Regions from separate parts of the Homo sapiens genome. Here all the other regions are linked to region 1. Evidence: fine-mapped expression QTL. A gene starts in region 1. Each other region holds a variant in brackets. All regions are shown on one strand. Distances are from middle to middle.

Evidence for each region.
Region 2: its variant is fine-mapped to the expression of MIOS-DT in esophagus mucosa (GTEx, PIP 0.95).
Region 3: its variant is fine-mapped to the expression of MIOS-DT in tibial nerve (GTEx, PIP above 0.99).
Region 4: its variant is fine-mapped to the expression of MIOS-DT in thyroid (GTEx, PIP above 0.99).
Region 5: its variant is fine-mapped to the expression of MIOS-DT in tibial artery (GTEx, PIP above 0.99).

The regions. Positions count from the first base shown.
Region 1 is chr7:7,563,254-7,568,360 of GRCh38, reverse strand. MIOS-DT (MIOS divergent transcript) reads left to right here and starts at 2,296. Exons shown (of 5, transcript NR_110084.1): 1 at 2,296-2,447; 2 at 4,037-4,124. It overlaps MIOS (meiosis regulator for oocyte development), which reads right to left and starts at 1,477. Exons shown (of 13, transcript NM_019005.4): 1 at 1,289-1,477; 2 at 673-754; 3 at 238-335. RefSeq lists an enhancer at 687-756 and a silencer at 1,007-1,656.
Region 2 is chr7:7,384,463-7,389,569 of GRCh38, reverse strand. All of the region lies in intron 27 of COL28A1 (collagen type XXVIII alpha 1 chain), which reads left to right. Among named protein-coding and RNA genes, the nearest start is that of LINC03016, 130 kb to the right of the region's middle. The variant C/T (reference allele first, on the strand shown) is at 2,297.
Region 3 is chr7:7,611,114-7,616,220 of GRCh38, reverse strand. No RefSeq gene overlaps it. Among named protein-coding and RNA genes, the nearest start is that of UMAD1, 27 kb to the left of the region's middle. The variant C/G (reference allele first, on the strand shown) is at 2,875.
Region 4 is chr7:7,638,518-7,643,624 of GRCh38, reverse strand. RPA3 (replication protein A3) reads left to right here. Exons shown (of 8, transcript NM_002947.5): 5 at 2,450-3,305; 6 at 4,481-4,555. The coding sequence starts at 3,207. It overlaps UMAD1 (UBAP1-MVB12-associated (UMA) domain containing 1), which reads right to left and starts at 2,873. Exons shown (of 4, transcript NM_001302348.2): 1 at 2,804-2,873. RefSeq lists enhancers at 2,413-2,582, 2,663-2,712, 2,753-2,952, 3,223-3,272, 3,643-3,692 and a silencer at 3,053-3,182. The variant T/C (reference allele first, on the strand shown) is at 2,125.
Region 5 is chr7:7,600,581-7,605,687 of GRCh38, reverse strand. All of the region lies in intron 11 of MIOS (meiosis regulator for oocyte development), which reads right to left. Among named protein-coding and RNA genes, the nearest start is that of MIOS, 36 kb to the right of the region's middle. The variant C/T (reference allele first, on the strand shown) is at 2,799.

The DNA.
Region 1 (5,107 bases):
AAATCTTGTAATACTCCAAAACCATAAAACCGAGATAAAATCTATCCCATTTCCATCTCACAAAGCTGTGACAATCAACTGAAATGAGCTCTTCACATCACACAGATGTTAGTATTACTACCATTCCCTTAATCAGCCCTGAAAGTTAATGTTTTTTCCAAATTTTGGAGACATTAAAAAATTAGGTGTAGAAGGGGTGCGGTCTGCAATAATTACAGCTTGTATTTATATCCTCACCTTTCAAGTTTAACAAGTCTCACTTCCCATCAGTGATTTCTCAGCAAAGGAAAGCCATGCTGATTCTGTGTTCATTCACCAGAATATTTGCAACAGCACTGTCCAAAAGAAATACAGTGTGAGCCATATGATTTAAAAATTTCTAGTAGCCACATTTAAAAAGTAAAATTAGGTGGAATGAAATTTAAAAACACATTTTATTTAGCCAACATATCAACAGCATTATCCTTTCAATATGTAATCAATGCAAAAATTATTGAGGATTTTTACGTTTTTTTGGCACCAACTCTGGGAAATCCGATGTGTATTTTACACTTATAGCACATCTCAATCCCATGTGGCTACTGGACAGTGAAGTCCAACACATTAAAATACTACTCAGTGTACAAAGGATCCAACCACATGCTTTTTGATGTTGTCTTTTACTTTTCTTACCGTGGCAAATTACGAGAGCGGTTTCAAGAAATTTCCACCATCAGCATCTTCGAGGAGATGCACTGCACATATCCAAATTTCCCTTAAAATATACAAAAGGCCTGCAGTCATTTGCTAACCTATTCAGCAAAGTCCACAACATGTGTGAGGTTTCATTCATCCTCTTAATTTTCATTACTCATATGAGAAGAGAACAGAGCTCACCGGGAGACAGGCCGTTTAAGAAGTATAGTATTTAAGAGGGTACAACGGGAACAGGGCACGTTGCTATTCTAGGTAAAGCAGGAATCTGAGTCCGACTCTCCCGCTCCAGGCACCTGGCTGAGCCTCCCGGGAAAGGCTGGGACGCCGCTCCCCACAAGCCCGCCGCGGCGAAGGCTGTAGCGTGTTCCCTGCGCCCCGAGGAGGTCTCCGCAGGTCCCACGGCCGCCCGCAGCCCCCGGTGGCTCCCGCTGAGGCCCGGCCAGGCGGCCGGCCGCCCGGCGCGATTACCCTACAGCGCGGAACGCGCTCCCCGCCGAGACGCCCGGGCCTTTCAACTAGGCTATCTCCGGCCCCTCGCTGCGGCCGCGGCGCTCCCGAGAGTCGAGACGCGAACCGGGTCGCGCTCACTGACCTGAGGTGGCAGCGCGGCCGCCGCACAGCCGCTTCCGGCCGGGACACCGCCCCGCCCGCCGCAGGAGCCCGGACGCGGGCAAGATGGCGGCCGCGGCCGTGCGGCCCGTGACCTGGACCACTGGGCTGGGACCCACGACCCCACCACCACGCCTGGAGGACGCGCAGCGGCGCCTCGGCCTTGGAAGGGGAGTTTCCCAGCGCGAGCCCCGCCCTTCCCCGCCCGGGAGGCGCCTCGGGGCGGGGTCACTGGCCGGGAGGCCCCGCCTTCCGCCCGAAAGCGCCGGTGCACCCCGCAGGCCCTGCCCGTGGGTCCACAGGCCGGATCCCCGGGTTCCTAGGCTGGGACTGCTTCTCAGAACCACTCTGTCGTTTTTAAGCAGGGTCACACACTCTAGCTCACTGGGTCCATTTTAATTTCTATTAAACATTTTTTTTTTTTTGCAAATGATGTAGTAGGAGATCCAAGGTGTTTGGTTAATGATTTATTCACTCATTAGTCATTCCACAAACTTGTCTTGAGCACCTGTTATGTACCCAGCACTGTGCTGGAATGCTGAGGAGACAGGAGTGAAGTAAAAAGACATGGTTCCGGCAGGAAACAGGCAAGGAGAGCCTTGACTTGGTAGGGCTAACACAGTGCTACACAGGAGGGACGCCCGCTCGGTGTCGGGGGTCAGCAAAGCTTCCTTAAGGACCACTAGGTTGAGACAAGAAGGATGAGTATGGGATTAGCCAGGAAAGGGAAAAGGGCAGTGGGAACTGGAAGAGAAGAGCCTTCTAGGACTGGGAAAGAGCAAGTGCCGGGTCAGGAGAGAGGACATAGCAGTGAGGAGGCAGTAGGTATGGATGAATGAGCAGAGGAAGTGGGGAGAGATTAAGGTGCTTTCAGAAACGGGTTGGAAACCAGTTTAGTGAGTTTGGATGGCATTTACCTAAAGGCAATGTTAGAGTCATCGAAAGTTTTTAATCAGGCAAGTGGTATGATCAGTTTTTTGTTTTGTTTTGTTTTTTTTGAGACGGAGTCTGGCTATATCGCCAGGCTGGAATGCAATGGCGCGATCTCTCCTCACTGCAACCTCCGCCTCCCGGGTTCAAGCGATTCTCCTGCCTCAGCACCTCGAGTAGCTGGGACTACAGGCGCGCGCCACCACGCCCAGGTAATTTTTTGTATTTTTAGGAGAGATGGGGTTTCACCATGTTGGCGAGGGTGGTCTCATTTCTTGACCTCGTGATGCGCCCACCTCGGTCTCCCAAAGTGCTGGGATTACAGGCATGAGCCACTGTGCCCGGCCAGTATGATCAGTTTTTGCGCAGAGAGCTGGAGGGATAGAGTATCAGAATGAGGGATGATAGAAACGCAGGTTACCAGTGGCACGGAGAGTGGGCATGGAGAGAAGTGGGGGCCCTGGGGAATACTTAGAAGGCGGGATGAACAGAGCTTGGTGACTGACCAAGTGAATGACGGTGAAAGAGGATTCCAAGTTTTTTGTTCCCAAAACTGAGTGAATGGTGCTGCCTCAGGTGTCACGAGTCTGACCTCGAGGCAGTCTTCAGATGTCTGACAGTCTTTGCTTGTCTGTTCATGATTAAAAGTGGGTGGTCTTGGGCTTGTGGTGGTGATGGCTGTAAACAGCATAATGAGCTTAGTCCTGATGATCTTGGTGGCAGATGGTTTTGATAAGATGATGAGTTTGGGGAAAGTATTGCCTTTCCAATCCTGCCATTAGAAGAATGTAGGCTGAAGAAAGTGCTGTATTACTGAGAGGAGACATGACAGTATTCATCACTTCAAACACTATCTTGCCAATCTTCTCAGTGGTTTTGACCCTGGCCTCAAACCCCCACACAAAACCTCAGATCAATACAAATCTCTTCCTTATCCACTCCTACTATACATAGTTGAGGACAACTTTTCTGCTTGCACTCAGGAGATGACACTGCCTCCTACTTCAGAAAAGAAAATTAAAACTATTAGCTAGAATTTGCACAACCTCCCACTGCTTCCTCCTTCCCTCCTCCAACATCTTGATTCACTACCATTCTTACCTTCTTTTAGGTGACAAAGAGTAAGAGGAGGAACCCCATGTATATCTCCTCTTCTGGGACCTTGCACCATCAATTACTTCACTTCCATGTATCTTTGCCTCTCCATTTCTACTGGTTCTTTACTTTCAACACATACTCAAGTTATTCCCATTTTCTCTTCAAAGGAGAGGATCATATTTGCTCTCTGTAATTCCACTTCCCCCTCTCTCCCTTGAATTCACTCCATTCAGTCCTTCATGCCCACCATGCCACGAAACTGCCACTTGTCAAGGTCACCTGTGAGCTCCATGCTGCCAGTTTCAATGGCCAAAGCTTCACTCTTGCAACTTCTGTTGTTCTTGACTACTTCCTCTCTTGACATGTCTCATTCACTTTGTTGCATATCATCACTTTCTTCTGGTTTGTCTTTTATCCCTGTGACTTCACTGTTCCTTAAACATGACAAGCATGCTCTTGCCTCAGGGCTTCTTCACTAGCTATTCCCTCTGTCTGGAATGCAGAAATCTACATGACTCATACTCTCCCTTTACTCAAGACTGCTCACTTGTCACTGACTACCTATAAATTAGCTCCTTTGTTGTTGTCTTTATGACACCACAACTTCACATACGTCGCCATCTCTTTACTTTCCTATAGTTATCTTCTAGACTGTGTCTTCTCCTTATCTCCAGTTTTCATTCTGTATTTTTTTTCTTTTTAGTAAGAGGAAATAACTCTACATTCAAATTTGAGCAGGGCACTTGGTGACCTACTTAGACATGACATTCCTTGGCCTCCCTTTCAGCAAGGTAAGGCTATATCAAAAAGTTATGTCCTGTAAGATGTGAGTAGAACTGGATCATGTCCCTTAAAAGGAAAGCTGCTTGCTATACACTTTCTCTTCCCTCTTCTTGCTGTCTGGCAAATGGCAAAAAGAAATACAGACTGGAAATGGAAGCCATGTATTAAGGAAGGCAAAGCTGTTCTCACTAGCCTAAGTCCCAAACTAATCTCAGGGAGCTGGGGCACCTCCTCCCTTGGATCAACCACAGACTTCTGGACCATTATGCAAGAGAAAATAAACTTTGTTCTTTAAAAAATCATTGTTTGTTTGGACCTGGTAGAGCAGCTTAGCCAATTCCCTAATTAAAACAGAGGGGCTCTGTCTATTTTATTCTCTGCTTAATCACCAGGATGTAAAACAGTACCTAATAAATGTGGTAAATAAAAATGTATTGAATAAATCCTAAAACAACGTATTTATTCTACATCCTCCTCCAGCTAATGTCCCTTTTTCAACTTTCTTTTCCACTCAAGCTTTGTGAAAGTATATATTTTTTCATATTGCCACTAATTCTTCTAAAGCCCCTCACAGGAATAAGTGACACCTTTCTCAGTCTTTTTGGAAACTGATTCCCCTTCTCTACTAAACCAAGATCCTTGCAGGTAGCAATCTTTTAGCATGGAACTTTGGATTTCCCTTAGCACCTGTTGCATAGGTATCCAAAAAATATTTACTGAGTTGAGTGAGTGCTTTGTATCTTTGGAAACAGTAAACCGTAGCAGAGAACTTGACAGACTGGTCTGAGATTACACTAGTTGCCTTTACTAAACATGCGTTTTACAATAGATCCTAGGGCCACTGTAGTTCAGTCTCGGTATTTTGTTTGTTTTTAATTTAAGCTTTTGTATTCCTAATAGGATTTTTTTATTGTTGTTTTTTTGAGATGGAGCCTCGCTCTGTCGCCCAGGCTGGAGTGCTGTGGTGTAGTCTCAACTCACCACAATCACT
Region 2 (5,107 bases), 180 kb after region 1:
ATTCAATGCAATCCCTATCAAGCTACTATTGACTTCCATCACAGATTTAGAAAAATCTACTTTAAATATCTTATGGAATCAAAAAAGAGCTCACATAACCAAGACAATCTTAAGCAAAAAGGACAAAGCTGGAGGGATTACGCTACCTGACTTCAAACTATACAATGAGGCTACAGTAACCCAAACAGCATGGTATTGGTACCAAAACAGATATGTTGACCAGTGGAACAGAACAGAAGCCTCAGAAATAACACTATACATCTACAACCATCTGGTCTTTGACAAACCTGACAAAAACAAGCAATGAGGAAAGGATTTCCTATTTAATAAATGGTGTTGGGAAAACTGGCTAGTCATATGCAGAAAATGAAACTGGACCCCTTCCTTACACTTTATACAAAAATTAACTCAAGATGGATTAAAGACTTAAGTAAGACCTAAAACCTTAAAAAAAAACCCTAGAAGAAAACCTAGGCAATACCATTCAGGACATAGGCATGGGCAAAGGCTTCATGACTAAAATACCAAAAGCAATGGCGACCAAAGCCAAAATTGACAAATGGGATCTAATAAACTAAAGAGCTTCTGCACAGCAAAAGAAACTATCATCAGAGTGAACAGGCAACCTACAGAATGGGAGAAAATTTTTGCTATCTATCCATCTGACAAAGGGCTAATATCCAGAATCTACAAAGAACTTAAATTTACAAGAAAAAAACAACCCCATCAAAAAGTGGGTGAAGGATATGAACAGACACTTCTCAAAAGAAGACATATATGTAGTCAGCAAACGTGAAAAAAAGCTCATCATCACTGTCATTAGAGAAATGCCAATCAAAACCACAATGAGATACCATCTCACACCAGTTAGAATGGCGATCATTAAAAAGTCAGAAAACTACAGATGCTGGAGAGGATGTGGAGAAATAGGAATGCTTTTACAGTGTTGGTGGGAGTGTAAATTAGTTCAACCATGTGGAAGACAGTGTGGCGATTCCTCAAGGATCTAGAACCAGAAATACCATTTGACCCAGCAATCCCATTACTGGGTATATACCCAAGGGATTATAAATCATTCTATAAAGACACATGCACCCACATGTTTATCGCGGCGCTGTTCACAATAGCAAAGGCATGGAACCAACCCAAATGCCCGTTAATGATGGACTGGATAAAGAAAAGTGGCAATATACACCATGGAATACTATGCAGCCATAAAAAAGGATGAGTTCATGTCCTTTGCAGAGACATGGATGAAGCTGGAAACCATCATTCTTAGCAAACTAACATAAGAACAGGAAACTGAACACTGCATGTTCTCACTCATAACTGGGAGTTGAAAAATGAGAACACATGGGTACAGGGAGGGGAACATCACACACCAAGGCCTGTCATGGGGTGGGGGGCTAGGGGAGGGATAGCATTAGGAGAAATGTCTAACGTAGATGATGGGTTGATGGGTTCAGCTAACCACCGTGACACATGCATACCTATGTAACAAACCATGTTCTGCACATGTACCCCAGAAATTATAATTTAAAAAAATTGAACTGAAATTGGTATGAATACAAATCCTAGGGAAGTATAGAGGCTTCTGGTAACAGTAGAAGCCTCCTGAATTCAAACAGCAGAAGCTGTTTCTGCGTAGGGAGAAATCCACACCTGCAGCTTTGTTTTAGGTCTTTTGATTTTCTTTTAGCCTTTGGGCTCCCAAACTTTGAGTAGGCAAAGTACCTGTATACTCATATGCTTTAGCCGCTGCAGCAGTGATAGCTGACATCTTTTTGCAACCACTTGGTACGTTTATTCATGCATTCATTTTATGTATTAATGTTTAACTTTTATTTTGAAATAATTTCAGACTTGCAAAAAAAGTTGCAAAGATAATACAAAGAATTTTTATATATCCTTTACCCAGATTCTATAAATGTTAATATTACCACATTTGCTATATCACTTTGCATATATATATATATGTCTGTGTCATATTATTTTTCTGCAACGCTTGAGAGTAAAATTCAGATTTGGTACCCATTTACTCCTAATACATCAGTATTTTTGCTACAAACAAGCACATTCTCTTATATAACACAGTACAATAATAAACATCAGAAAATTATTGATATAATACTATTTAATCTATAGAACTCATTTAAATTTTGCCAAGTGTTTATCTAATTCTTTTTAACTTTTTAAAGTATTGTTTTATTCTTTAGTAAAGGATTATTTATATGCAGTAAAATTTACTCTTTTTAGTATGCAGTTTTATGTGTTCCAGCAAACCCGTACGAGGAGG[C/T]ATCTAATGGTCTGGGCGTGGTTTCCTGACCCTCCACAAATAGTAGGGCATCTCTAAAGATCTGGGCCCAGGATTCATTCTTGCAAGGTTTATTCTGTTTCCTTCAAAAGGAAACAGAATGTGGTCTGAAAATTCATATGGTCCCCACATTCATATGTTGAAATTTTAACCCCCAAGTCGATGGCGTTAGGAAGTGGGGCCTTGGGGTGGTGATTAGGTCACCTCTGTCCTCAGGAATGGGATTAGCACCCTTATAAAGGAGGCCCCAGGGAGCTGTCTTGTCCCTTCCACCATGTGAGGACACGGCAAGAAGGTGCCACCTATGAACCAGGAAATGGACCCTCACCAGACACTGAATTTGCCAATTCCTTGATCGTGGGCTTTCTAGCCTCCAGAACTGTGAGAGATAATCTGCTGTTGTTTATAAGCCACCCAGTCTATGGTATTTTGTTATAGCAGCACAAACAGACTGCGACCTGTGGGACCTGTGCTTCCCTTCCCAGGCTAGCACCACAAGGGAAGCCTACTCCTGACCCTAGTCCTGGCCCCAGTCTTTCTCTTGAGCACCAGCAAAGTCCCTGAGAAGAGTCTGTGAGTAGCTGTGATTTTCTCTTGTGCCTGCAGCTCCCAGGGGTCCTATCCCCTCCTGCTATCCCACACTCAGCCTTTAGCATCCTGTTAAAAATTTTAGCTAAATTCTCACCAGCTTGTATAACATGTGGCACCTCCACCAGGTAGGTGAATTTCCAAGCCTGTGTCTCCTTGAAGGATCTTGACTTTCCTTAGATGCTGAATTGGCGGGATGCCCTGCAACCACAGCTCTATGATGGATTCAAGAAAAGCTGTGACTTCACAGATTAGTTCTCATTTTTTGTTGTTGGGGCTTTAAGAATGAGAGTAGCATTTTTTTCCACTTTTCTACACACTGGCAGAAGCCAGATGTCCATTTTACATTTTATGATCATCTATAAATTTGATTTTTTTCTTACCACACCTTACTGAGAAAACATTTCGAAAGAAAAATCATTGTTTCCTGACGTATCAGTAATGCACAAATAAATCAATGGAAACATTCAGGTAGATGTGCATTATTCTTAGAAATTTCTCTCCCAGAGAACAAGCAGTCATCTGAAAAATGAAAATGATCACTTCTTTATCAGGACCCATCTAATGTGGTGATATAGTGATTAACCAGGGTTTGAAATTTAGATTTAATTATAGCTTCCAATAAAATAGGTTGTTTCCTGCAGTTGTTTCTGACCCACACTCAAATCATTGTTTATCATTTTCCTGAGACTTATACATTGAAAAGTCTGATTGGATAGCATTCACCTCTGCCAAGATCAGACATGGATTTACTTGCTAAAGGCTTTTAGCTAGATAGTCTACTCTGAAAGTTATAGGAAGCCTTTAAGTATTTTGAAGGGAAACTAGTGATTAAAAAGAAAATGAATTGCCTTTATTATAGGGAAATCTAGCTGCCTGGAATATCTATAGTGTTAACAGTTATATAGAAAATACTTACATTGTGAAGTAATGCAAAAGAAGTTCCTGAACATTACCCTAACAAGATAATTTGCTACTCTAATGTTTTTTCCCTCAGGCACGTGTCATGCTTCCCCTTACAACAGTAGGTTTTAGCTATATTAGGAAATTGTGTCATTTCTTAAAGGCAGCTAGTTAGTCATGAACATGTATTGGACATCTTCTGGAGGAATCTGAAATATTGCAAAAGAAATAATTATTCTGAGTAATTGTCAGAAAGGTATGGCATTCTTTCTGGATTCACTTTGTCTAAACATATAACTCCTAGCGATAATTCACCATCACACCACAGTCTCAGCTCCTCTGTTTATCACACTGTTCTGTCCTTTCAGGCTGAGACAAAGCCAACCATGGATTTCCTCTTAGTGTTCTCCCATGAGCCTTTAGTCTGTCTTATCCCTGGCCAACTGTACCCCCTAACTTAGGTACAGCGGTCTGACGCATCTCCCTTGCAACCCAAACCTTCTACCAGGTACCTCATTGAATGAAAATGTCCTCATTCACCTCCACAAAAAATCTGAGAAAACAAATTTATACCAAAGTGTGATTTACCAAGACATCTTTCTTAAGAGATATCGTTCCTATACTATTTGCGTTTGTTTTCCTTTTGATTTGAACAGAAGAAGATGGTATAACCTCAGGCAGGTAGCTGCCTGCAGTCCTGCATATCACTCTGGGGGCTGGCTGCTAGTCTGTATGTAGGCAGACCCCACTAACCTTCATGTTCAGAAGCAGGCTGCAGATCCACTCCTATTAGAGCATGTTTTGCAGGGAGCCTCATGAGGCTGTTCTGTGTTATCTACACTTTCCCACCTATTCATCTTCATGACACCTATGTTGGGAGTGCCATCTTTGGAAACAGGACAAATTTTTCTCCTCTCCTTTTTTTTGATTGAATTTTCATCTTGGAATGCCAGTGTCAGTTTAATGTTTAGGGTTTATTTAACTGGTACAAATTCCTATCCAGGGTTCTGGGGCTCCCAATGATATCAAGTTTCCTGGTGGGAAAAGATTACAGTAGTCCCTCCTTATCTGCAGGAGATATGTTCCGATATTCCCAGTGGATGCTTGAAACCTTGGATACTACCAAACCCTAAATATGCTATGTTTTTTCTATATACACATACCTATAATAAGGCCTAATTTAAAATTAGGCACAGTAGGAGATTAACAAACACATAATAAAATAGAACAACTATAAGCAATATACTGTCATCAAAGTTATGTGAATGTGGTCTCTCTCAAAATATCTTACTGTACTATACT
Region 3 (5,107 bases), 48 kb before region 1:
GTACTAGACTTCAGTGAAGAGACTTGAGATCTAATTTCAGCTTTACCATCCGGTTCGAATACCTCTCCAATTGTCCAAATTGGTAGTTAAGCTGAAAATGACAAACAGGTGAACACTGGCCAGTTGGCAGTTGGTGCCTAGAATACTACGCTGAAAAAGGATCTGAGGGAAAGTGGGAGATTGATGAACCACTTGTGCCAAAGGTAAAGAAGTGTGTGGTCATTCACCACTAGGTCAAGCACAACTTGGCCTAACCTGTCCATCTCATGGTGTCTGAAACGAGTTGCTGTATTTCTCATTGGAGAATTTTAACACATAGAGGAAGTTTGCTATTGGCTCACATGTAGAAATCTTGTTACTATGTGTTTTTCTTATCACCCAGTGCTTCTTACCATGACCATTTTCTTCCCATTTTTCAAAATACAAGTAAGTCTCAGCTATCTACATTAATCAATGTTAGGTAAAAATGTCCTCTACTTAGCAGTCCTCAAAGCAGCCTTTGTTAGCTTCTTCTTAAAATTTCACAAAGACAGAAATGAAAAGTCACAATACCACTACCAACAGATTGTGGAAAGAATATTAATCAAGTATAGGACAGAGCAGCTGGATTGAGGACCTATGATAGCTCCATTTTGTTGTATAATCAATGCGTCTCAGCTCTGAAGAAAATGCACATGCACTTCAATTGGGTGACCAATACAATGTAGTAAAGGTAGTGTCTTAATTCAGAGGCAGATAAAACCAAAACCAACTGTTTATATTTGAATTTGAAATTCAACAGGGGAAGAGAGAGGAAACAATGAGGAAATAGGAGAAAGCCATGCTGGAAGATGAACATAGATGAGGAAGGAGTTTAAGCTCAGTAATATTGAGAACTTGAGGAACTTGGTCCCAGGAGCAGAAAGAGATGCTAAAATACCTATTCCAAGTACCATTCATTTTCCTTGATGTATCATTTTACCAAAACTACAATCTGTCACTTTTTTGTAGGACTATGGAGACCCACATTATCTGCCATCTGTTTTAGAAATGCAGCCCACATCATCCCGACATCTAAATGATGATGTTCTTTTCACTTCATTCTCACATCTGCCTGCTGAAATATAAGAAAAACTTTATTTTGCTGTATCTCAGTATCATTTGTAAATCTCCTTCCTCTAACTTCCCCCTTTCTGGATAAATTCTGACCTTTCAAAAATGCCTAACTCTATCCTTTGACTTTTTGTCTGAAGGAAATAATTTGGCAACTTCATTGGTCACTATTGAATGCAAATTGTAGCATTTCATAAATCTGCATTTCAAGGAACATGACAGTGATTAATAAAAAGTTTGGAAATCTTAGAGGGTTGTTCTTGAAACAAAAACAATCCTTCCATGCTTCCTTCCTCAATCTAAGGTTTTGTGATGCTGTCTGATGAGCAAAAAAACAAAATCACCTTACCAGGTCTGACAGAGTGACTCAGAAGGGATTATTTTTTTGTTATTTTTAATGCCATAACTTTTTAATTTAAATGCTAATTGATGATCCTAGCACAACCCTCTAGTGGCAGAATCAATTTCAGTAATGATGTTGATGGCTGCAATATGATCAACTGAAGCCTCCACCACTTGGTACAAAAGGAGTGGAAATGATAGGCAGCTCATTAATCATTTATTCCAGAGATGAATGTGTTCAGTTGCTGATAGGGTGCTGTAGGTGAATGCTGCCAAAATGAGAAATGTCAATTGTCAGGCCTCATGCATAATAACTGTGGAGCTATTTTTAAGCTTCTTTGAAGATTAAAGTTATGCCCTTTTTCCCTACAGTTCCGTCACGTATGCTTGGCAATTTTGGTCTCTGAGAATTGATTTTCACTATGCGCAGATGTCTCTGCTTGAGAAAAAATATACAGCTCAAAATCTAGCATATTTGAAAAGTTATCTAGAATCTGCAGAGGTCCACACACTGGAAGAGGACTCTAAATGAATACATAAGAAGTAGAAGATGCAAACCTGGAGATATACTGAGTAACTAACTGTTTTGGCCAATTTTTCCCATGAGATATGTTTTATCAGGATGATACACGTTTTTAATTTCCCAGGTCCCCACAGGGAACATACATTTTCTGTATTCATATAACATTTTCTGAAGACAGAAGTAACAAAATTCAATAAAATATATTAAAAAACAATACAATGTTTCTAAAAGAGTAGTTGTTCCCAGATGACCTTGAAAATCTGTCCTCAGCTTACTTGTCTCTAAATTGTGTCTGGTTCTTCCAGTAGAAAAAGAGAAAAAATGTACCCTGTCTGGAGTATTCTCTTTTGGAAGCCAACAGTATCTTAGCATTCATTCAAAGAGTTACACTCAATTTTCCAAAAAGCATTTAATGTATTTCAGAAAGCCGTCTATGTTTAAAAATGCTAATCTGTACTAAGAGTGACAAGTGACCATACATTCCATTTTTGAAGAATGGAAGAAAAAGATCAGAAGATTTGAAATGATAAAACATATTAATTTTTAAAGAAGTATTACTTTATCAAGAGATACTTCTCTCACATTTGTCACATCGCTGAATATGTTTGCTTCATAAATACACATCTTCATCTATTTTGGGAACATTTATGTACCATAAAGATACACATCCATAGTTGTTCAAATATTAAGTATACCTACTTAATGCATAATAAAAGTTTTCAAATTGACGATGAAAATATTTTTTTGACATAACACCACAGGAATATTGTAACATTCCAATTTTTACTATGAAATAATACATGGTGCTAAAAAGGATACTTAGCTTTACATTTTACAGTAGCAACTTCTTATTTAACTATCATCAGCAAAATATGTGGCTGCAATGTGATATAAATCTGGATAAGCATGAATTTGGA[C/G]AACTATTATTTCAAACTCCAGGCTTTCTTATGTGTAGATGGAGCTAAAATTCTTTAAATAAAAAGATGTAAGATAAATAGTTTGCATGAATTCTTACATATATGTTTCAAGCTGTGAGACATTAATCCCTTCAAATGCTCCTCCAGACTTGTCTTTGTGACTTTATATTTTAAGAGACTAATTTGATTCCTGCATCTAAATTTCCAGTTAAGAAATTATGTTAAGGCAATATGCTTTTCATAAATTGAATGATGAAAGTCTCTACTGAATTATTATTGCTGCTGTTTCTAACATTACATAAATTATCCTTTAATCCTAAAGCTGCCTTTTTAGCAAAGCATTTTAAAACACTGTGCCATTAGTAGATGAGTAAGAAAATTACATTTTTGAAAAACGTTATGGAAATCTCTATTTCCTCAAATTATTTTTAATTGGAAAATAATTTTTAAAGTCCAAAATGAGAAAATCAAATAGACATTTTCTGGCTTGCAGAGATGCTAAAATGATACTCATTTTATGCAAATGCTATAGCAGTTGTAAATATTAAGCTTAATAGATTTGAATCTGCTGAAAACTATGCCTGGATCTGCCTCTTCCATTAGACATACAACTCCTCCAAGGCAACTATGGTGCCATCAATCCTTTAACATCAGAACCTTTAACACTGTCCAGCACACGTAGGTATGGTTCTGTGTTTTGGTGAAGCAAAGACACACAGGCATGTTCAGAATTCATCACTTAAACCTAAATAACCTGCTATTATTGGAAATGAATTGAGCAAAGTGCATGCCAGATTAGACTGGACAATAATCACATAAATTCAGTACATAGAGGAGGACAGCTTTCCCACCACAGACCCAGAGCCAAAAAAGAGGAGTCAGGAAATCTCATGACGAAGATATAGGAGAAAAAATATTGAAATGAAGTTATTAATCATGTACCACTAAGCTCAGGGAAATCAGAATTATTTTACATATTCATTTCCCAATACGCTAAGTGGAGAACATAATGCACTACTTCCAAATGTAATGAAGAATTGAGAGGACTATATCTTGTTATTCTTGTATATTACTAGTGTAGAGTAAGAAATCTAGAAAATGCTTTCTGAACAATTAGATCTCAATCCAAATTTTCATAACATCTTGTAGCCTGTTTTTTCACCGCATAGAATAAATCCTAACATATGATTGTTTCACTGTGTTTAATAACAAGATACAAGGTCATGGATAACTTTTCTAAAAGCCAGTATATACATATATGGTGTGTATGTGTGTGTGTGCGCGAGAGACAGAGTGAGACAGAGAGATGCATGTACATTTATATATTCATTATTATTGGGAAAAATGAAAGATAGATATGAAGAAAATGTTACTCAAAATTCCACTCTTTAAAGATGGCCACTGTTAAAGTTTCTGTATTAACCATATCCCAAACAAATATATTTATATGCTAGATATACTATCCTAAAACTTCCCTTTCACTTACCAATATATTAAGAAACCTTTGTCAATGAAAATATCTATACTAATTGAATCATTTCTTAGTAACCCACTGTATGTATATACAATAATTTATTCTTTTCTATTATTGGACATTTAGGTTTCCAAGTTTTTATTATAAACAATACTGTGTAGAACCGTATCATAAAAATATACATCTTTGTGCACTTATGCAATCAATCCCTCAGAAAATATTCCCAGCATACTATGTCAAAGGGTATGAAACTCTTTACGGCTTCTGATTAATACAGTTTACCTGTCCTCAAGACTTAAACTCTCATAAGCTGTTATCTCAGAATGTTTCCTTCCCACATCCATGAAAATGCCTATTATTTTAAATCTATGCAGTCAGGCGAACAGTATTCTACTTTTTAATCAGCATGTTACTGATTTAGCATTTATTTGTCAGCAGTTCTATTTTGCTTGCACAAGTCTTTGATTGATATTATCTACTGATTGTTTTTTCCTCGGCTTTGAAAATGTCCTTTCTGAATTAAGGCAATTTGTCATAAATGTTGTAGTTTATCAATTTGTTTGCCTTGTAACTATGATTTTTGCCATATCAAATTTTGATGACTTGGAAAAGAAGCAAAGGTGTGCCTTTCGCTTTCTTCTTTTTCATTGCCATGTGCAGAACCAGTGACAACAGCATCCACTTCTTATTCCTGTCTATAGTGAGAAGGATTCTAGTATTTCTCTAATAGGCATCATGATGTATGAGACAGTAAAACAG
Region 4 (5,107 bases), 75 kb before region 1:
TTCTCCTGCCTCAGCCTCCCGAGTAGCTGGGACTACAGGCCCCCGCCATCGCGCCTGGATACTTTTTTGTATATTTAGTAGAGACAGGGTTTCACCATGTTGACCAGGGTGGTCTTGAACTTCTGATCTGAGGTGATCCACCCGCTTCAGCCTCCCAAAGTGCTGGGATTACAGGCGTGAGCCACCGCGCCCGGCCCTGATCCTAGGACTTTTACAAGCTTGTCTATTTCCCATGATTCTTTCCTTAGGATAGGCTGCCGGCAGGCACAGAGCCCTCCTTAGCCTTGGGAAGTGTTTTTAGGGAGTTACATGCACGCCCATCTGAGGCTTCCTTCCTTTTTCCGGTGGAGTGTACCTGGAAGATCATACTTTACCATTTTTGTCTCTTAATATGCATGCCCAGGAAGCTGTTTCTCCCTCGGGTCTACATTCAATTAACATTTTGATAACAGGTGTGGACCATCAGGAAATGGCCTCTCCCTGGCGCTGCAGAATTATCATTTTTAGAGAAGCAAATTCGGTAATTGCCAAACCATCCCCCAACATTTCTAGTGGGTTGGGGGAGAGCCCACTACTGTCCCACTCATGCCTACCTGTAACAGAAAAAAAAATATGATCTACGTACATTCGTCAACATAGATGAATCTCAAAAACAAACAAAAGAAGTCAGAAGATACATACGTTTCTGTTTATATAAAGGTCAAAGACTGGCAATATTAAACAACATACCATTTAGCAACGCCTGCATGTGTGATAAAACCACCTAGAAAAGCTTAGGAAGCTTAACACAAATTTCAAGATAGTGTTTACTTATGGCTGTAGCAAGGAGGGCTTCATTGGGGAAGTGCAAACTGGTAAAATTTACTGGTAACTGGTAAAGTTCCATTTCTTCAGCTGAATGACAGGCCCCATGGATTCATTTCATTTCTCTCAAAACTATGCAAATCGGCTAGCTATACTTTTTTCTGTACATCATGTATTTTATAATATTTTAAGTGACTCAAAAATACACGAAAAAGCTGTTTTAAATTATCTTCCTGCTCATCTCCCTGTTTTAAAAGAAAGCCTTTGCTTAAAAGTGGTCTTTCTAACTGCAGGTAAACAACGACATTAACATCTGGTACTCACAGGAGTGCTCTTTAAAAAAAAAAAAAATCACTATTACAGGGTACGCACCAAGGCTCACACCTGTAATTCCAGTACTTTGGGAGGGAGACGGGGGAGGGAGGGATCGCCTGAGCCCAGGAGTTTGAGATAAGCCTGGTCAACATGGCGAGGCCCCATCTGAACAAAAAAAAACAAACAACAAAAAAAAAATCTTTATTAGCTGGGTGTGGTGGTATGTGCTTATAGTCCCAGCTACTTGGCAGGCTGAGGTGAGAGGATCGCTTAAGCCTACGAGTTAAAGGCTGCAGTGAGCTATGTGCATGCTACTGCACTCCAGTCTGGGTGACAGAGAGAGATCTTGCCTCAAAAAAAAATGCTATTAAAGACATTGATGTGTGTACTCTCCCCTATATAATGCACATCAACTTGCTTTGCAAAACAATGCTAAAGTACAAAAGACTTAAAGCTGTAATATAAAATAGACTTTACTGACTTGCACCAATACAACCACAACTTTTTTATACACCACTGACACACATTCTACATCTGTTTAATGAAATCCTTTAAAGTACCGTTAGTGAGTAAAACTAAGACAAACCTATTAAGTGCTAAGGAAACACTAAGGGAGACTATCATTTAATTATCGTACATGAGATTCCAATCTTAAATTGCCACGTGAAGTCTCAAATCGGATCTTTTTTGCTTAAGGGAATTTGAACGATGACAATTCTGTAGCTTTGGGCCAATTCACAGACTCAGTTTCCACAACGTTATAATACCCAATTAAAACTTCTGTCCAATTTCCACCGTACCGTTTGAAGGTATTTTTATGTGCACTCATTCTAGAATACTCCTGGCAAGGCCGCCGGCTTCGGGTCACAAGATGAGCCAGGGACAGATTGGAGACTACCCCCAAATCTCCCAGGAATCGGTTATCTTCCAGACCTCCAGATCGCCCTCCAGAGTCTCGCAGTGTGGAGGGCAACGACAGAAAGACTGCTGAGGGGGTTTAAACTG[T/C]TGAGTCAAACATATGGCCAAAAGTCAGAGTCAACTGGGACCTTGCAAATCATTCCGCCTAACCCTTCGTTTTGCAGATGGGGAAAACACGCCTCAGAAGGGAGAACCCTAGCTCGGGGAACCCTAGCTCGGGGTCTAACAACGATTTAAGCTTGTCTCCCCTAGTACTGGCCAGTGGTTCTTCCCCGTTACCCATCCTTAAGTGCTTCTATTGGCTGCCAACACGGAGGGGTTAGCGGGGTGAAAGAACCGGCGCCTCCGCAGTGTGGCCAGGTTGGGCTAAAAAACGTCTTAGAAGTAATCGGATCAATCTCTCTTCTTACAGGTGGAGAAAGTGGAGAAAGTAGAGTGACGCAGCTAAGGGAGTAAATCGACCCTCAGCCAACAAGTGGCAAAAGCCTGAAGAAAGTGATCAAGATCACTGATGACCCCGCTGCCCATCTCCAAGGGGGCGGGTATCACAACCCCGACGCCACACCACGTATCATTCCGCAAAACTCCCGCGCCTCCCACGCAGAACTGGCAAGAGGGAAGGCGAGACAGCAGTGAACAGCTGGTACGCAGCACCCACAGCACCGCGGCAGCAGCTAGTGCCGACTCCCGCCTAGCTCTTTTGACTCTGTTCGCGGGAAGAATGGGGAAACAGTAAGGTTGCGGCGCCTCCCGCGAGACGAGGTACCTGAGGCTGGCCCCGCAGTCCCCCGCCGCACCAGCACCGGAGCTTCACACCCCACTTCCGGGGTCAAGTCACCGCCGGGAATCCTGTGATCGCAGAAAGGTAGTCTCAGGTTCCGCCCCTATCCAAGTCCCGCCTCCACTGCCTCTCGCCCTGTATCTGTCAACTTCCGGGACGCCGCGCGTCACTAAGCAGCCAATCTCCACTTCCGGACTCATCCAGCCCCTTCTCCACCCCTTTCAGAGACAGCGCGATTGCGATTTAGGTTTCCGCGCATTTAATTGGCGAAGCTGGAGCGCTAGTCTTCGCTGATTGGTGCCGAGAAATCTGCCCCATAGACACCCGCGGGGCGCACAGTTTCAGTCGTCCGTGGGTTTCCCGCCAGCCGCAGTCTTGGACCATAATCATGGTGGACATGATGGACTTGCCCAGGTCGCGCATCAACGCCGGCATGCTAGCTCAATTCATCGACAAGCCTGTCTGCTTCGTAGGGAGGCTGGAAAAGGTGTGCGGGTTCGCAATCATGGGCTCCCAAGTCCGTAGCTGGAGGGAGGGACCCCGCCTGGATAACGGGGGATGAAAAAGGACGGAAAGCCTCCGATCACTGCGCCCCCGACTCCTTTATTTTGCACAAGGAACTTTTTGGAAATTCTTTAGCCGTTGTAGCCCCATTTTGGCGCTCTTTTATGGCACGGAAACAAAGTGTTTTCAAATGCTGAGTTCTAAATTCCAGTGCCCGTCGCCTCCGTTCTAGCCGTGCTTACGTAAGGGAAATTATAAACACCACTCCCACATCTACCTTCAGATTTCTTAGTTTACTCAGACGTGACGGACGCAGACAAAACTAATCTGCTGGTTTCCTTCTCTTCTGAAATTACTTATTTTTGCAAACCTCGTTTCCTCGTTGTGATCGCTTCTCTGTAAAACATGCCTTGGTTGTCCGCTTTGGGTCCCGTAGTAACGAGTTATTTAACCCCAGTATTAAAGTGAAGTTCCCTCATTCTACAGGCGAGAAACAGGCCCAAAGTCTTGGAATCAGTGACCTGAAAAGCTGAGGAAAAGAAAACTATTATATAAAGACTTATTTAGTAGCTCATTTCATCCACACATCCTCTTCCTTAAATGAGTGTTGCTCTGACTTCCCAAGTAGGGAAACTGAGTAGGAGTGGTAGGTGGTTGACTAAAATGCTCAGAAACTCGGCAAATGGCAAAGCTGGCATTCAAACGCAATCTGACAGCGCTCTTTACAGCTGCTTCCCAGGAGTAGGACCCAGATATTCTAGCAACCAGTTCTCCTTTTACTTCATCATGCCTGTTTTTTAAAACATACCCTCCGTGGGATATGTACTGTCTAAATCATGAGTGCCAGCAGATTTCACTTTTAGGGTGGGCATCCTTTAATTTGTTATCAGAATAGGGTTGCCATATTTAGCAAATACAGAACCTACTTAACACTACAAAAAAAATCCTTGTTTATCTGAAATTCAGAAATTAACTGTGTGTTCCATGAACAGATTTGATAACATAAGATTATAATTTGATCCAATAAGTTGAATAAACTGAATGAATAAACTGTTCAAGAAACAGTTGATTTGTGCTCAACTAAGGATCAATGTACTCATCTTTAGTCAAACTTTGTTGTTGTTTTAGTGAGATTTTAATTATATGTTTCGTTTTTAGATTCATCCCACCGGAAAAATGTTTATTCTTTCAGATGGAGAAGGAAAAAATGGAACCATCGAGTTGATGGAACCCGTATGTTTAAGTGTTAATAAGTCTCTTATATATTATAGTTAATTCTTCATCTTGATTTGGTTTGTTGCCGATGTTTCTAATTTTTGCAATGGATTTAAAAAGGATGAGCTGGTAAAACGTCCCTGGCTGTAAAATTTAATTCTTGTACTATTCTCTCATTATATTTCCTTTTACATTTTTAACCAATGATTTTTTGGGCGTCATGATTTTTGAACATATCCCATAAATGTTGGATAACAATTCTCATTCCTTATGAAAGACCATAAAATCACATAAGAAAAATTTACGTTGCTTTTTTCTTCCTCAAGAGGTTTTTTGTTTCGTTTTTGTTTTTTTGTTTTGAGACAGGGTCTCACTCTGTTACCCCGGGTGGAATGCAGTGGCACCATCATGGCGCACTGCAGCCTTAGCCTCCCAAGATCAAGTTGCTCCCATGTCAGCCTCCCCAGTAGCTGGGACTACAGGCATGCTTAACCATGCCTGGCTAATTTTTGTTTTGTTTTGTTTTGTTTTGTTTTGTTTTGTTTTTTGTAAAGATGGCATCTCCCTATG
Region 5 (5,107 bases), 37 kb before region 1:
AGAGACCAAATCAGTAGTTTAAAATCTTTCCACAAGGAAAATACCAGGCCCAGTTTACAAGTGAATTTTACTTAACATTCAAGGAACAGGTAGGGCTGGGTGTGATGGCTCATGCCTGTAATCCCAGCACTTTGGGAGGCTGAGGCGGGCAGACCACTTGAGGCTAGGAGTTCACGACCAGTCTGGCCAACATGGTGAAACTCCGTCTCTGTTAAAAATACAAAAATTGGCCGGGGGTGGTGACACATGCCTGTAGTCCCACCTACTTGGGAGGCTGAGGCACAAGAATTGCTTAAATCTGGGGATTGGAGGCTGCAGGGAGCCGAGATTGCACTGCTGCACTCCAGGCTGGGTGATGGAGCAAGACTTTGTCTCAAAAAAAAAAAAAAATCTATCAAGGGACAGGTAATTCTCATCTGTACAAGCCCTTTCAAAGAAGAGAAAAAGCAGAAAGTTTCCCAATGCACTTCATGAGACTTGTGTAACTTAAACAATTGCTTAATTAGACTTAATATTTTTACTTAATTGCTATCTATAAAGACATTATGCATCGATAACTATGTTAAAAATTTTGCTTGGACCATTGCAGGTCACGCTTTCATGACCAAAAGGATAATCTTGCAGTCGGGAATAGTTTTAAAAAATATCCGTTTTTGCTAATGATATGAGGTGAAAGGATGTGTAAGTAATTCAATGATTAAAGATGTAAACACACTAGAATTACTCCTGAAAGGGTCACCAACAATTAATAATGAGAGGGCAAAAAGGAAAGGGGGAAGAGATAAATAAAATATAGATCTGATATGTACACTACTTTACACCTTTGTGTAAAGCTCTCATTAGTGCTTGTCACTTTGTTTTTGTAACTTCTAACATAAACAGATAACAGACTGAATCAGAACAAGGCATATCCTTATATTTTTCTGACGAAACTGGAAGTATTAAGGTCTATCTCACTGCCAAGTATAAAGGCTTAAGATCAAATGACTTCAAATTTTAAAAGATTTATAGTGAATTATGAAGACAAGTGCCACAGAACACTTTAGGCGAAACTAGAGTTTCACTTATGCATTAACTCATAATGTAAGAAGAAAATGAAGGAAACCAGTAGATAATCTAACTTTTAAAAAATGTGTCATTGTCCAGAAGTTAAATTCTGTAAGGGCAGCGATTTTTGTCTTCTTTACTGTAACATTTCTAGCACTTGGAACAATAGGTACCAAATAAACATTTGTTGAATAAATAATATTTATAATGTTTATAATGATGTTAGAACTGTTTCAACAGATTTCTAATCTTCAAAGCACAATTGAGTATAAAAATATCAACTCTCAGTTAAATAAGCTTATAGAAATTCCAGCTATTTGAATCACAAAGCATGATGGATGGATGCAATCTCTGATTGCAGGCAAAGCACCAGGGAGGTTTAGATACTCGAGCCACTAGCCAGCACTTTATTTTTTTTTAAATTTTATTATTATTAAAGTTTTAGGGTACATGTGCACAACGTGCAGGTTTGTTATATATGTATACATGTGCCATGTTGGTGTGCTCCACCCATTAACTCGTCATTTAGCATTAGGTATATCTCCTAATGCTATCCCTCCCCCTTCCCCGCACCCCACAACAGTCCCCGATGTGTAATGTTCCCCTTACTGTGTCCATGTGTTCTCAAATTGTTCAATTCCCGCCTGTCAGTGAGAACATGCGGTGTTTGGATTTTTGTCCTTGCGATAGTTTGCTGAGAATGATGGTTTCCAGCTTCATCCATGTCCCTACAAAGGACATGAACTCATCATTTTTTATGGCTGCATAGTATTCCATGGTGTATATGTGCCACATTTTCTTAATCCAGTCTATCATTGTTGGATATCTGGCTTGGTTCCAAGTCTTTGCTATTGTGAATAGTGCTGCAATAAACATACGTGTGCATGTGTCTTTATAGCAGCATGATTTATAATCCTTTGGGTATATACCCAGTAATAGAATGGCTGGGTCAAATGGTATTTCTAGTTCTAGATCCCTGAGGAATCGCCACACTGACTTCCACAATGGTTGAACTAGTTTACAGTCCCACCAACAGTGTAAAAGTGTTCCTATTTCTTCACATCCTCTCCAACACCTGTTGTTTCCTGACTTTTTAATGATCGCCATTCTAACTGGTGTGAGATGGTATCTCATTGTGGTTTTGATTTGCATTTCTCTGATGGCCAGTGATGATGAACATTTTTTCACGTGTTTTTTGGCTGCATAAATGTCTTCTTTTGAGAAGTGTCTGTTCATATCCTTTGCCCAGTTTTTGATGGGGTTGTTTTTTTCTTGTAAATTTGTTTCAGTTCATTGTAGCTTCTGGATATTAGCCCTTTGTCAGATGAGTAGGTTGCAAAAATTTTCTCCCATTTTGTAGGTTGCCTGTTCACTCTGATGGTAGTTTCTTTTGCTGTGCAGAAGCTCTTTAGTTTAATTAGATCCCATTTGTCAATTTTGGCTTTTGTTGCCATTGCTTTTGGTGTTTTAGACATGAAGTCCTTGCCCATGCCTATGTCCTGAATGGTATTGCCTTTCTTCTAGGGTTTTTACGGTTTTAGGTCTAACGTTTAAGTCTTTAATCCATCTTGAATTAATTTTTGTATAAGGTGTAAGGAAGGGATCCAGTTTCAGCTTTCTACATATGGCTAGCCAGTTTTCCCAGCACCATTTATTAAATAGGGAATCCTTTCCCCATTGCTTGTTTTTCTCAGGTTTGTCAAAGATCAGATGGTTGTAGATAGGTGGCATTATTTCTGAGGGCTCTGTTC[C/T]GTTCCATTGGTCTATATCTCTGTTTTGGTACCAGTACCATGCTGTTTTGGTTACTGTAGCCTTGTAGTATAGTTTGAAGTCAGGTAGTGTGATGCCTCCGGCTTTGTTCTTTTGGCTTGGGATTGACTTGGCAATGCGGGCTCTTTTTTGGTTCCATATGAACTTTAGTTTTTTTCAATTCTGTGAAGAAAGTCATTGGTAGCTTGATGGGGATGGCACTGAATCTATAAATTACCTTGGGCAGTATGGCCATTTTCATGATATTGATTCTTCCCACCCATGAGCATGGAATGTTCTTCCATTTGTTTGTATCCTCTTTTATTTCCTTGAGCAGTAGTTTGTAGTTCTCCTTGAAGAGGTCCTTCACATCCCTTGTAAGTTGGATTCCTAGGTATTTTATTCTCTTTGAAGCAATTGTGAATGGGAGTTCACTCATGATTTGGCTCTCTGTTTGTCTGTTATTGGTGTATAAGAATGCTTGTGATTTCTGCACATTGATTTTGTATCCTGAGACTTTGCTGAAGTTGCTTATCAGCTTAAGGAGATTTTGGGCTGAGACAATGGGGATTTCTAGGTATACAATCATGTCATCTGCAAACAGGGACAATTTGACTTCCTCTTTTCCTAAATGAATGCCCTTTATTTCCTTCTCCTGTCTGATTGCCCTGGCCAGAACTTCCAACACTATGTTGAATAGGAGTGGTGAGAGAGGGCATCCCTGTCTTGTGCCAGTTTTCAAAGGGAATGCTTCCAGTTTTTTGTCCATTCAGTATGATATTGGCTGTGGGTGTGTCATAGATAGCTCTTATTATTTCGTGATACATCCCATCAATACCTAATTTATTGAGAGTTTTTAGCATGAAGGGTTGTTGAATTTTGTCAAAGGCCTTTTCTGCATCTATTGAGATAATCATGTGGTTTTTGTCTTTGGTTCTGTTTATGTGCTGGATTACATTTATTGATTTTCGTATGTTGAACCAGCCTTGCATCCCAGGGATGAAGCCCACTTGATCATGGTGGATAAGCTTTTTGATGTGTTGCTGGATTTGGTTTGCCAGTATTTTATTGAGGATTTTTGCATCAATGTTCATCAAGGATATTGGCCTAAAATTCTCTTTTTTTGTTGTGTCTCTGCCAGTCTTTGGTATCAGGATGATGCTGGCCTCATAAAATGAGTTGGGGAGGATTCCCTCTTTTTCTATTGATTGGAATAGTTTCAGAAGGAATGGTACCAGCTCCTCCTTGTACCTCTGGTAGAGTTCGGCTGTGAATCCATCTGGTCCTGGACTTTTTTTGGTTGGTAAGCTATTAAGGATTGCCTCAATTTCAGATCCTGTTATTGGTCTATTCAGAGATTCAACTTCTTCCTGGTTTAGTCTTGGGAGGGTGTATGTGTCCAGGAATTTATCCATTTCTTCTAGATTTTCTAGTTTATTTGCATAGAGGTGTTTATGGTATTCTCTGATGGTAGTTTGTATTTCTGTGGGATCGGTGGTGATATCCCCTTTGTCATTTTTTATTGCGTCTATTTGATTTTTCTCTCTTTTCTTCTTTATTAGTCTTGCTAGCAGTCTATCAATTTTGTTGATCTTTTCAAAAAAAAAACCAGCTCCTGGATTCATTGATTTTTTGAAGGGTCTTTTGTGTCTCTATTTCCTTCAGTTCTGCTCTGATCTTAGTTATTTCTTGCCTTTTGCTAGCTTTTCAATGTGTTTGCTCTTGCTTCTCTAGTTCTTTCAATTGTGATGTTAGGGTGTCAATTTTAGATCTTTCCTGCTTACTCTCGTGGGCATTTAGTGCTATAAATTTCCCTCTAAACACTGCTTTGAATGTGTCCCAGAGATTCTGGTATGTTGTGTCTTTGTTCTCGTTGGTTTCAAAGAACATCTTTATTTCTGCCTTCATTTCGTTATGTACCCAGTAGTCATTCAGGAGCACGTTGTTCAGTTTCCATGTAGTTGAGCGGTTTGGAGTGAATGTCTTAATCCTGAGTTCTAGTTTGATTGCACTGTGGTCTGAGAGACAGTTTGTTATAATTTCTGTTCTTTTACATTTGCTGAGGAGTGCTTTACTTCCAACTATGTGGTCAATTTTGGAAAAGGTGTGGTGTGGTGCTGAAAAGAATGTATATGCTGTTGATTTGGGGTGGAGAGTTCTGTAGATGTCTATTAGGTCCGCTTGGTGCAGAGCGGAGTTCAATTCCTGGATATCCTTGTTCACTTTCTGCCTCGTTGATCTGTCTAATGTTGACAGTGGGGTGTTAAAGTCTCCCATTATTATTGTGTGGGAGTCTAAGTCTCTTTGTAGG